Linked DNA regions of Homo sapiens. The protein of the gene in region 1 interacts with the protein of each later gene in a pairwise test. Each region holds a gene or a part of one and is shown in the gene's direction. Other genes may lie near its edges.

Evidence for each region. The genes of interacting proteins can lie anywhere in the genome.
Region 2: the proteins of TMEM201 (region 1) and VEZT interact in a two-hybrid assay, tested with the Homo sapiens proteins (one large-scale study listed by BioGRID).

Annotation. Positions count from the first base shown.
Region 1 is NC_000001.11:9,605,778-9,609,619, forward strand, and holds part of TMEM201 (transmembrane protein 201), read left to right. Parts: intron 1-1,779; coding exon 1,780-2,012; intron 2,013-3,842. UniProt on the Homo sapiens protein: Critical regulator of angiogenesis and endothelial cell (EC) migration. Promotes the migration of endothelial cells, which is essential for angiogenesis.
Region 2 is NC_000012.12:95,266,204-95,270,045, forward strand, and holds part of VEZT (vezatin), read left to right. Parts: intron 1-153; coding exon 154-429; intron 430-3,835; coding exon of another isoform or gene 3,836-3,842. UniProt on the Homo sapiens protein: Plays a pivotal role in the establishment of adherens junctions and their maintenance in adult life.

The DNA of each region.
Region 1 (3,842 bases):
GGGAGGAGTGGGGATGCACTGGCAAGACCCAGCCACTCCTGCTAGAGCCCACCCTTTGGGGCCAGGAGCTGCGTGGCCCAGCTGACCACCTCATACCCACAGCCCACTAGGACCCTCCTTTCACACATCCCCCAACGGTACTCTCAGGTCACTGGGGGACCTGGTCACCCTTGGCTGACTCTTGGCTATGTCTGTGCTGCCGGGCAGGGTGGGCACAGGAAGCCTAGCGCAGAGCCCTGCCCCACAAACTCCCTCCCATGGAGGGTCATGCCCCAAGGTCCCAGCAACACCTTCACTGCCCCTGCCTAAAGGTGCCCTCAGGGTCATTCCCTGAAGTCGCTGCGCTGTCCCGCCAAATGGAATCAGAATTCTAACATGACGACACAAAACCTCATCTTCTGTGTAGAGGTGGAGCCTTCCCTGGAGTCTTGGGGGCAAGCAGCGGGCGCTGGGCCTGGGAATCACAGGTCAGCAGGCGGAACAAGGATGTGTCCAGTCCGGCTGACCGGGGCCTTCCCCAGGGTCCCCAGCTCAGCTCCTGCCTTGATGCCCACATTCGCCAAACATGGCCTCGCCTTTGGTTCTGAAGTCCAGGTGGTCTCCTGGCACCTTGGAAGGCATTAGAAAGGTTACATGATTCTCCGGGAAGTCAAGAGCTGGCCCCACACTTTCCTTATAAAACTTTTTTAGAGGGAAAGTAGCAGGGAGGTTGGTGGCGCGCGGCTTGGCTAGCGATCCCCGAGCATGCAGTCATGCTGGGCGCAGGTCCCTTAAGCAGCCCCCGGCTCCTGCAGGGCGTGGGCCAGCCTGCCCGCTCACCAGCACGTTGTCCACTGGGCTCATTTGTCCCTTGGCACCGAGGTAAGGCTGGACCCCCGGAGCTCCGTCCAGACGGTGGACTAATGTATTAACTGCCTCTGTCCCTCTCTTCCCTCTGTAATTGGGTGCCTTAATCAGAAGCATGGTTGACGTTCTGGCGTGGGGCCATCAGGTCCTGTTGTGTGATTTGTACCATCTCGAGTTAAAGAGACACTGTCACCTTCCGTCTTTCGGGCAGCCTTGCGGTCGTGGATGGGTCTCTTCTAAGTTCGGTTTTGGCGTTGTCCTGTGAGAGCCTCTTCCAGGGGGTTCCAAGGCCTGGCTGCCCCCCAGTTCTGCTCTACCAGGAACTTCAGAGGAGTTTCCAGAGTGCAAGGCCAGAGAGCAGGAGGCAGCCTTCTAAGGGCAGAGCTGTGGGAGGACTTCCAGGAATCACACCTGGGAACAGAGGGTGCCCAGAGCCGTGCTGGGGCCTGACTTCCTATGATCCAGGCCCATCTGGGAGATGAGCCAGGATGTCCCTGAGCCCGGCCGCTCTGTGGGAAGGCTCGGCACAGAACAAGAAGTGGCAAGGAGTCCAAGTCCATTAACCTTCATTGAGTGCCTGGCACGGGGCTGGGCATTTTTGCTTCAAGGCGAAAGGGTTGGCATGAGGTTGGCAAAGGCGACAGTGTCACTTTAATACCGAGACTCGTAGTGGAGATAGTTTGCTGTGAGCCGAGGGGGTAGGAGGGGGCATGTGGGGAGGGCCGGGTCTTGCTGGCACCTCCCAGCCACCCGCTCCTAATGGCGTGAATGTGGTCGGATTGCTTTTCTGCTTTAACTAACGCACGCCTCCTCTGGGACCCCAGCTGAGGCCCCCACCTTGCACTGTGGGAGAGGGGTGGGACCCACTGCAAGGCTGCCTCCAGGACCTCCCGCTGACCCTCTTCTTGTCCCGTGCCTGACGGGCCCTTGCAGGTTCTTCCCAGGAGACTCTGCCGGCCTTTTCCCCACCAGCCCCAGCTTGGCCATCCCTCACCCGAGTGTCGGAGGCTCTCCAGCGTCTCTGTTCATCCCCAGCCCGCCCAGCTTCCTGCCCCTCGCCAACCAGCAGCTCTTCCGGTCTCCTCGACGGACCTCACCCTCCTCATTGCCTGGCCGCCTCAGCCGGGCCCTCTCTCTGGGAACCATACCCTCTCTGACTCGAGCAGGTAAGGGGTGCCCAGGCATTGGCAGACAGTCAGGGCTAGGGGCAGCTGGGACAGAACTGTGGATGGGTACATAGTGTAGGGAGGGCCGGGAGTGGTTAGTGTTCCTGCTGCAGAGACAGGCAGCACAGAGCTTTGAGCCTCAGTTCCCCCCAAAGAAATGGGGCTAGCTAGGAATAGGTGGCTCATGCCTTTAATCCCAGCACTTTAGGAGGCCAAGGTGGGAGGATGGCTTGAGGCTAGGAGTTCAAGACCAGCCTGGGCAACATAGGGAGACGCTGTCTCTACAAAAAAAGTTGTTTTAATTAACTGGGCATGGTGGCGTACACCTATAGTCCCAGCTATTTAGGCTGAGGTGGGAGGATCGGTTGAACCCAGGAGTTGGAAGCTGCAGTGAGCTATGATCACGCCACTGCATTCCACCATGGGCAACAGAGCAAGACCCTGTCTCAACAAAAATAAAAATAAAGTGCCCAGAATTGCCATATCATCTGGGAGCCCCAGCACGGCCCCTTAGTCCCAGCTCTGGTGACATGACCTTGGGTAAATGTGTGCACCGTGCTGTGCCCTAATCTTTTCCTCTAAAATTGCAACATGCCCCTCAGCAAAGGGGGCCACTCTAGTTATTCTAGGGGAGGAGATGCTGATAACAGCCAAGGCCCCTCTCCTCTCGTGCAGTTACAGGGCAGGCCATTTTGTACACACGCCAAGGTTTATATTAGGATGCTTTTGCTTTTCCCCTAAGCAGAGATACCCCCCTATTTTCAGGGCACCCCAGCCTGGTGGCACTTGAATGGAACTTGGGGTGGGAGGTGCCAGGAGCAGCCCTGCCCTGGGCCTGAGCACTCCGAGTAAACTCTGTGCGCACTGACCAAGGTGGCAGAGCTCAGGGACTTCTGTTTCAAGCCCCTTGGGAGGGGAGCGTGGCAATCCCAGGGCCAGTTCAGGCCTCCAAGGCAGGGGCTCCTGCCCACAGAGAAGAACAGGCAATCTCCCTGTTAAGGCTCAAGGCAGGGACACAGTAGCGACCTGTCTGAGGTAGCAGCAGAGGTCTTGGGGCGCAAGCTTGTCTTGGAGTGTCCGGTGACAGATGGGACCCCAGTCTCCATTACCAGAGTGGGTCGGGGGGAGGAGCCCGGTCTCCATCGCCAGAGGGTGGGTCGGGGGCAGGAGTTCCTGCAGGGCTTTGGCTCATGTATTCAGAGACGCGCTGGACCGGGCTCAGGTGCTGTGGCCAGAATCCAGCTTGCTGTCTCCCTGTCTGTCCTCAGTCCGCTTCTCTGCCACACACCTCATCCCTGTGTCCTGCAGCCCATGCCCAGCAGGAAGACGGCCTCTCCCAGCATCCATAGAATGGATTCTAGAAGGACCCTGGTTGGCATGCTGGGTCCTTGTGACCACCCTTATCCAGCCTATCCCCTGGCCTGGTGAGGGGAGGGTTATCTGCATGCTGCAACAGACCCTTCAGAGCCCACAGGTGGCAACAGGACATGAGGCAGTCCCTGGGTCCCACATTCAGCTCTCAGCCAGCCACTTGGAATTGGGGCCCCTGCCCTTGGGGTGCGTGCGCCTGATTTAGGAAAAGGCAGCGTGGTTGGTGATCCCTGGGATCGAGAGAACAGGCAGTTGGGGTCTGCAATTAGTGGAGAAAGTGGGACTAGATGGCTGGAAAAGCAGGCCCTTCTGTGGGAAGAAGGGCATGGAACGAGGAGTGGACAATATGCCCAGTGCCGACTCTTCTCACCACCTGCTGTGAGCCTCAAGTTTCTTCCTGACCTCGTGATCTGATCTGCCTACCTCAGCCTCCCAAAGTGCTGGGATTACAGGCATGAG
Region 2 (3,842 bases), on another chromosome or scaffold:
AATGTCATATATTTTTAAGTTATGCTTTACAAAGAAGCTAGCATTTTATTTATTTAGTAAACCTAAATTTAAATTTTGTTTTTACTGATTAAAGTAATTCATCTTTCTTTCTCTAATCTGATGCATATCATTTTCTTCCTTTCTTGTTCCCAGGGATCTCTCAATGCTATTTGCCTTCATTAGCTTGCTCGTTATGCTTCCCACTTGGTGGATTGTGTCTTCCTGGCTGGTATGGGGAGTGATTCTATTTGTGTATCTGGTCATAAGAGCTTTGAGATTATGGAGGACAGCCAAACTACAAGTGACCCTAAAAAAATACAGCGTTCATTTGGAAGATATGGCCACAAACAGCCGAGCTTTTACTAACCTCGTGAGAAAAGCTTTACGTCTCATTCAAGAAACCGAAGTGATTTCCAGAGGATTTACACTGTGAGTTCATTTTTTATTTTATTTCTTAAATGATTATTTTCTATTCCATAAAGGAGAATATTTATTACCTATTTTCATTTCTATGTTGCATTTATAGGAAAAAAAAGTGCTTTTCTCTTTAGTACTTACTAAAGTCAATTAACTGCTAAGTGAAGGAATAAATACATTATGTGCTAGATTTAATATGTAGTATGATTCTGCCTATCTGCTTTGAGGAACTAAAGTACTTTGGAGATCATGATTATTTCTGTATGTTACCATGTGATTATATGAGATAATATATAGAGAGTGTCTGATACTGAACCTAACGTGCAGTAGTTACCCAGTAAATGCTTGCTCCCATTACTCCCTTTCAAATGCCTTCTTTATGATAGACGTATCTGCTATAAATGCATTTTGAAAACTCTTGACATGTACTAATAACTGTTCAGGTAAATATTAGCAGATATTATAGCACTGATACTCTCAGAATATCATGCAAATAGTGATGTTTTCCATTCTTACAGGAAATTAAATATTCACCAGTCTAGCTGTAAGTATATTAAGCTGTAGGATATATTGACTACTTAATCTATTATTAAAGGGAAAGTTACATTTATTGAGCACCAACTATATTCCATATACTATGCTAGTCACTTTTGCATACAACTAAAGGCATAGAATTATAAATGGTAAATATTCATATCCATTCCATCTGATTCTAAACCCGGCTTGCAGTACACTGGACACCTGCCAAACACTAACAGATGACAGTTGTGTGCTAGTATATTTAATAATTTATATAACCTATATAACTTTTGCAATCTATAGGTGGGGGAAAGTAAGCATATGGTGAAGAACATTCATAGCTCTTAATTAGTCGTATCTAGAAAATCATGAAAAGAGGGAGTGAAGAACCTCTGGTAGCCATCGCATCCTTCACTCTGTTCTGCTCTAGAACATTACACAATCTTGAGATAAACACTGTTTCTAAAAAATCATGGAATAGAGAAATGGAAGAATCCCAGTAGTTATCTTGTTCTTTACTCTCTTGTGTTCTACACACAATCCCAAGACATAAGATGGATTTTATAATTTCTCTTTCTTCTCAATCAAAGTATAAAAGTCAGCCAGGCACAATGGCTCACACCCGTAATCCCAGCACTTTGGGAGGTCGAGGCATGAGGATCACTTGAGCCCAGGAGTTCAAGACTAGCCTAGGCAATCTAGCAAAACCCCATCTCTACAAATAATAAAAAATTAGCCAGACGTGGTGGCACACACCTGTAGTCCCAGCTACTCGGGAGGCTGAGGTGTGAGGATTGCTTAAACCCCAGGAGGTTGAGGCTGTAGTGAGCCAAGATTGTGCCACTGCACTCCAGTTTGGGCAACAGAACTGGAGACAACAGATTCTGTCTAGGTTGGGCAACAGACTTGGTCTCAAAAAAAAAAGTATAAAAGTTCTTAGCATCTGTTGATTTTTGTCGTTGCATTAGTTGAAGTCTACTTCTTATTGACTTAAAGGATAGCACGTTTTTAAGTTGTTTAAGTGTCAAATTTTAAAAGTTTAAAAAAATCATGCTTAAAATAAGTAATATTTCCGGCCGGGCACGGTGGCCCACACCTGTAATCCCAGCACTTTGGGAGGCCGAGGCGGGCGGATCACGAGGTCAGGAGATCGTAGCTATCCTGGCTAACACGGTGAAACCCCGTCTCTACTAAAAATACAAAAAGAAATTAGCCGGGCGTGGTGGCGGGTGCCTGTAGACCCAGCTACCCGGGAGGCTGAGGCAGGAGAATGGCATGAACCCGGGAGGCAGAGCTTGCAGTGAGCCGAGATCGCGCTACTGCACTCCAGCCTGGACGACAGAGCGAGACTCCGTTTCAAAAACAAAAAAAAAGTAATAGTTCCTTTTTATTTTATTGAGAGGACTTACTGGTTGAACAAAGTGGCTTTGTTCAACTAATGGTTAGGCGTGTATAGAGGATTCTGTGCCTTGTGTCATTTTCCAACTTTATCTGTCCCCATGGAATTTGCACGAAGAGGTAAAGTGGGCCAGTTAGACATGATTTACCTTCCAGATTATGACTTCTACCCATTCAGATGACAGACGAAGAGAAGTATTGGAAGAAATTGTGCTTCCTTTGTCTCTATCTAACTGGATAATGGGTTGAAAAATGAATAATAAGTCTTGAATCATAATTTTTTAGACATTTTCAAAATTAGACAGTTTTTAAAACTGATTTAGTAAAATGGAGCACAAGCAGTAGTGCCATATATTGAAATCATGAATGCTGTTTTGTTTCTGACTCAAATTGTCCTCTCTCACAAATAATTGAAACCTTTTTTGCCTTCATTCCCTTGTCTTAACATAAGCCTGTCAGTCATCATCCTCTGCTTTTTATAGATTTTTTAAAATTTGGTTTTTATAGATTTTTAATACCTGAATACATTTTAGTATGGTTTAACATTTTTAAAGTTTTGAGTTAGGTGTGTTGTTTTATAGCTTTGTGTTATAGTATAAGCAATTTACAAATGCCAATATTTTGTTTTACTGTTGGGAAAGATTACTGGTTAGGTGAAAAAATTTATCTGATAACCAGGTATTTACTCATATATACTGTAAGTTATGAAATGTAATACATTGTATGTCATTGTTACAAATTAGGTACTCCCCATTAATCTTATGGGAAGTGCCATGAAATGTGCTTCCTCTTGAACAGCTTTGAGAGTAGCTATGCTACTATGCAGTAACCCTTACTTTGCCTTTCTACTTGTATTCCCCTGTTGGCCACTGGTCCTGTTATCTTTCCACGTCCCCTACTTCATTTTGAGTAGGTAAGTGCCAGTGGCAGCAGGTGGGTAAGTAATTTTACCCTACTTTTATGAATGTACAGAATGTATTTCTATACAGTATTTTTTCTGTACAAGTGACCAAAATATGATCAGTGAACATATGTGATGAACGTATGTAAATGTATATTAAGAATTTAAAAGTGTTTATAATTAAGGTCTTCATACTTCCTATGGATATAGGTTTTGAAAACTGAATATAAAGTAGCTCTTCTCTAATATATGTTAGCAAGCATAGTGTCTATGTAAAAAAGATGTGGATTCTTAATAAATATTTCTACATTTCTGTTATATCTCAGCCAGAATCCATTGTTTCCCCACATCAGAGGAAGCCTTTGCTCTTTGAGATGTTAATTTTTTGTCTTTTTTTTAGTGGTTGTCTATATATACATATATATATATATCTAGTCACAGAAATGACTATTTTATGAGACCTGAGTTGACATATGTATAATCATTTTCTAGTGAAGATCATGAAAGAGGAATTTGTTTTCTACATTTAATAGAATTGTGGATTTAGGAAACAAAAACTTTAGGACACCTGTACAGTTGTATCACATTTTACTTTTCAAGTTTGCTT